2 separate regions of the Homo sapiens genome follow, and region 2 is linked to region 1. The links come from fine-mapping of genetic effects on gene expression. Tissue or cell type: whole blood. Region 1 holds a variant in brackets; the other region holds the start of a gene. All regions are shown on one strand. Distances are from middle to middle.

What was found. PIP is the estimated chance that this variant, and not a neighbour inherited with it, causes the effect.
Region 2: it holds the start of RPL29, and the variant in region 1 is fine-mapped to the expression of RPL29 in whole blood (TOPMed, PIP above 0.99).

Annotation. Positions count from the first base shown.
Region 1 is chr3:51,918,703-51,921,386 of GRCh38, forward strand. No RefSeq gene overlaps it. Among named protein-coding and RNA genes, the nearest start is that of IQCF1, 17 kb to the left of the region's middle. The variant C/T (reference allele first, on the strand shown) is at 1,270.
Region 2 is chr3:51,994,394-51,997,077 of GRCh38, forward strand. RPL29 (ribosomal protein L29) reads right to left here and starts at 1,502. Exons shown (of 4, transcript NM_000992.3): 1 at 1,464-1,502; 2 at 1,032-1,076; 3 at 649-713. The coding sequence starts at 1,068. RefSeq lists an enhancer at 1,447-1,606.

The DNA.
Region 1 (2,684 bases):
CACAGAAAACAAATGATAAACTGTAGTCTTAAATTATATCAGTAATAATATTGAATGTAACCAGTCTAAATATGCCAATTAAAAGGAGGTATTAACAGATTGGCTTTTTTTAAAAAGACAAACTGTGTGCTCTCTATAATAAATCTATTTAAAATGTAATTATATAGGTATGTTAAAAGTAAAACAAGTACTTAATGTACAATGAAAATAGTTAAAATTGTAAATTTTATGTGTATAAAAAAATTTAAGTAAAAGGATGGGACTTCCATTTCCAGCCAAGATGGAGTAACAGTAACTGGATTTACTCTCCCACCTGAAACAACCAAAAACTAGACAAAATCTAGAAAACAATGATTTTTAAGATTCTAGAAACCAGGCAATGAAGGACAGTAATCCCCAAGAGAAAGGAAACAAATGAGAGTTTACTGCCTGGAGAGTTTCCAAGCAACCGCACAGGAAGGGGGAGCCAAAGAAGATATCTCAATGGTAAACAAGCCTATGTACAGATACTCAAAATCCTTAGTAATTAGGGAAATGCAGACTAGGACGATAAACTATTATGGCCCACATATTAAAATGCCTATAATTTCAAAGACTTATGCCAAGTGCCAGTAAGGATGTAGAGCAACTTGAACTCTTTAGATGAGAACAAACTCGTATAGACTGCTTATGAGAATGAAAAATGGTACAACTGTGCAAAAAAGTTTGACAGTTCTTAAAACATTTTACATATACCTACCACGTAACTCTCCTATTCCAGTCCTAAGTATTTACCCAAGAGAAATGGGAGCACATGTGTACATAAAGACTTGTACACTAATGTTCATAGCAACTTTATTTGTAATAGCCAAAACCTTAAAACAACACAAATGTGAACGCATAAACAAAATGTAGCACACCTATTCAATGGGACACTATTCCACAATAAAAAGGAATAAACTATTGATACATGCAGTAACAGGAATTAATCTCAAAATAAATTTTGTTTGCACGTATACAGATGAGGCCGGGTGCGGTGGCTCACGCCTGTAATCCCAGCACTTTGGGAGGCCAAGGCGGGCGGATCACGAGGTCAGGAGATCAAGACCAGACCATCCTGGCCAACATGGTGAAACCACGTCTCTACTAAAAATACAAAACAAATTAGCCAGGTATTGTGGCGTACGCCTGTAGTACCAGCTACTGGGGAGGCTGAGGCAGGAGAATCGCTTGAACCCGTGAGGCAGAGGTTGCAGTTAGCTGAGATCGCGCCACTGCACTCTAGCCTGG[C/T]GACAGAGCAAGACTCCGTCTCCAAAAAAAAAAAAAGGATACAGATGAAAAGAGTATATCCTAAAACATTTATCATTTCTTTTTTTTTTGAGATGGAGTCTCCCCCTCTCGGCTCACTGCAAGCTCCGCCTCCAGGATTCAAGCCATTCTCCTGCCTCAGCCTCTCGAGCAGCTGGGACTACAGGCACCCGCCACTACGCCCGGCTAATTTTTTGTATTTTTAGTAGAGATGGGGTTTCACCGTGTTAGCCAGGATGGTCTCAACCTTGTGATCCGCCTGCCTCGGCCTCCCAAAGTGCTGGGATTACAGGCGTGAGCCACTGCGCCCGGCCAACATTTATCATTTCTTCGTGTTGAGAACATTTCAAATCTTCTAGCTATTTTGAAACATACAATAAATTCTTTTTTTTTTTTTTTTGAGACAGAATCTCACTCTGTCACCCAGGCTGGAGTGGAGTGGCTTAATCTTGGCTCACTGCAACCTCCGTCTCCTGGGTTCAAGCAATTCTTGTGCCTCAGCCTCTCGAGTAGTAGCTGGGACTACAGGCTCGCGCCATCACGCCTGGCTAATTTTTGTACTTTTAGCAGAGAAAGGGTTTCCCCATGTTGGCCATGTTGGTCTCGAACTCCTGACCTCAGGTGATCTGCCCACCTCGGCCTCCCAAAGTGCTGGGATTACAGGTGTGAGCCACAGCACCCAGCCACATGCAATAAATTCTTAACTATAGCCACCCTATTATGCTAACACTTTAACTTATTCCTCCTAGCTAACTGCATTTTTGCACCCATTAACCAACCATTCTTCATTCTTCCTCATCCCCGACCCTTTCCAGCCTCTGGTAACCATCATTCTACTCACTCCCTCCATGAGATCAATTTTTTTAGCTCCCACATATGAGTGAGAAAATGTAATATTTGCCTTTCTGTGCCTGGCTTATTTCACTTAACATGTCCTCCAGTTCCATCCAGGTTGTTCCCAAATGTCTGAAGTGATGGATATCCCAATTACCTTGACTTGATCATTACCCATTCTATGCATGTATTAAAATATTATATGTACCCCATAAACATGTACAACTTTTATATATCAGTAAAAAATATATATATACTATATAATTTCATTTATATAAAATTCTAGAAAAATGTAAACTAGTCTAAAATGTCAGAGAGCAGATCAGTGATTTCCTGAAGATGGAGGCGGGGCTTCAGGAGGGGTGAGAGGAAGGGATAACAGAGGAACATGAGGAAACGTTTAGGAGTGATGGATTCTAAACACAGCCCAGGCTGCACGCAGTGGCTCAAACCTGTAATCTTAATGCTTCGGGAGGCCGGGGCAGGTGGATCACTTGAGCCCAGGAGTCCAAGACTAGCTGGGCAACGTGGTGAGACCCTATCTCCATACAAAACAACACAAA
Region 2 (2,684 bases), 76 kb after region 1:
CAACTTCCTACAGCAGGGGTTCGACCAAGTTTTTTCCTGACATCCCCTCAGGGACACCCCCTCCCCTCTTTAGAAGAAGGTGTCAATTAAATACCAAGTCTGGTCCAAAAGACTTATAGCCAAGGTGGGATATGGGGAAACTGAGGCTCAGAGTTTGTGATTCACTCCACGGAACAGAGAGCAAAAGTAAAGGGAAGGAACAGACTGGGGACATGCTCAGCTCTCCCCTAGACCCTCCAGCCTTCTCAGCTAATCCTTAGAACCCCCTGACACAGGAAGAGAAGCTGACCCCAACTCCAGCACTGGGTCAGATGGAGGTCATAAGGCTGGTCAGTGTGGGAATGTGCCCTGCACGCACTCAGACAAGGCCACTCCTTACCCTAAGTGCCACTGCCAAGCAAGGGAGATAGCCAAACTGCCCTCAGGAGGCAGGTTACACCCTGACCAGAGGGTTACACTTCAGGCTGTGGAGACCAAGGAAAGCTTTATTATGGGTCTGGTAGGGTAGAAAAAGGAATTGCAGGCTTTGGGTGGGCCAGTTAGGCTGTGCTCAGGCAGAAGCCAAAGCTAGAGAAAAACTACATGAGAGGCCTTGACTGTGCACCTGGAACCAAGAAAAGACACTTCCATGTGATTCAGTGCACTCACCCCCTTAAGAGATTCGTATCTTTGTGATCGGGGTTTCTTGATACCATTTCTGTGCCATTTTCGGGCTGTGGGAGAAAAAAAGGGAATTAAGCCAACAAAGAACTTTCCTCTAATAAGACCACCCAACATCACAGCTGGCAAGTCTGGGAGAACCAACACTTCCTACAGCAGCTACACTTGAGATATGGGAAACCCTTACTACTAAATGCAAAACACTCTGTATCTCAAGTAGATCTCTAAACCTATAAACCCTAAAGTTATTACTGGGTGAAATCAATCAGCCTCAGGCCCACAATGGAAACGTGCCCCTTCATCTCTGTCCCAGTTTGCCTGAACCAGTCCTTGCCAGGGTCTGGGATGTAGGCAGGGCCCAAAAAACTTACACTGGTTGTGTGTGGTGTGGTTCTTGGACTTGGCCATGTCTGCACCTGGAAGACAAAAGTGGAGATCAGGGTTAAGGGCTCGCCAGGCTGGGCCACCTCTGCCCCCCCCATTCTGGTCAGAATGAGCCTGCAGGCAGAGAATGTGCAGCCTCCACGAGTCTCGGCTTACTCTGCACGACCAAACGCCAGTCCTGGCCTCCCAAACCCAGGTAATGATGCCCTGAAATCAACTCCTTACCCCCGGAAAGCTGCATTCCCCAATAAAGTGGCTTTCCCTGCCATCCCCCTCCTAGGACCTAGAAGCACCATTCCCACCCCGCAGCTTTTGCTCCCGACAGACACACGGTCGGTCACCAGTCCTCTCCGCAGCCCGCGCCCCGCCGCCACCCGTAAGTCGCGGATGGCATCGGATGCCGCGCGGCCAACACTCACCATAAGCCGCGGCTCCCGAAGCGCCTAGAACCGGAAGAGAAAGGGGCTGCGGTGCAGCACGGGAAATAGGGTCAACAACGCCGGAAAGTACTACTGGAAAAGCTTCCCCAGGCTCCGCGAAGAAAAGTTCCGAAGCCCGGAAGAACGCAAGCCAGACGTGGAGGCGGTGCTACGAGCTTGCCTCCGCCCCCTTCAGGCTGCCTCCTCCCTTCTCTGTTTCTCCAGGACCTGTCTCTTAAGTCTTATTCAAGATACTGAAAAAGAAAGGAGTCCTTGAGGGATGTTGTTGGGCAAGAAGATCTGTGTTCTTTTTCTTTTTTTTTTTTTTTGAGACGGAGTTTCGCTCTTCCACCGAGGCTGGAGGGCAGTGGCACAATCTCGGCCCACTGCAACCTCCGCCTTCCGGTTTCAAGCGATTCTCTTGCCTCAGCCTCCCGAGTAGCTGGGATTACAGGCGCCCACCACCACGCCCGGCTAATTTTTACATTTTTAGTAGAGACGGGGTTTCACCATGTTGGCCAGGCTGGTCTCGAACTCCTGACCTCGCGATCCGCTCGCCTCTGTCCCCCAAAGTGCTGGGATTACAGGCGTGAGCCACCGCACCTGGCCGATCTGTGTTCTTAAAAGCACCCCTGTAATCCCAGCACTTTGGGAGGCTGAGGTGGGCGGATCACGAGGTCAGGAGTTCCAGACCAGCCTGGACAACATGGTGAAACCCCATCTCTACTAAAAATCCAAAAAAAAAAAAAAAAAAAAAAAAAAAATTCACGGGGCGTGGTGGCACGTGCCTGTAATCCCAGCTACTCTGGAGGCTGAGGCAGGAGAATTGCTTGAATCTGGGAGGTGGAGGTTGCAGTGAGCCAAGATCGCACCATTGCACTCCAGCCTGGGCTACAGGGCGAGACTCTGTCTCAAAAAAAAAAAAGAAAAGCACGCCTGACTCTTTCGTGGAGAAGGAGCAGAGGGGAGGAAGGAGAGAGGGCTGCCTGGACCTGAGGGAGGACAGTGGGAATGCAGAGGAGTGGACAAAGAAAGAGTACTGGACTTGGGACACAGAAGATGAGGGAGAAAAAGGAGGCAAGGATAGCCCCTATGTCTTTGGCTTGACAACTGGGTGAATGGTGGGCTGTTTACAGAGATGGAAGATTGAGTGGGGAGCAGGGGCTTTGTTTGTTTTGTTTTGAGGGGGAATGATGAGCCAGATATTTTTGTTGGATGCAT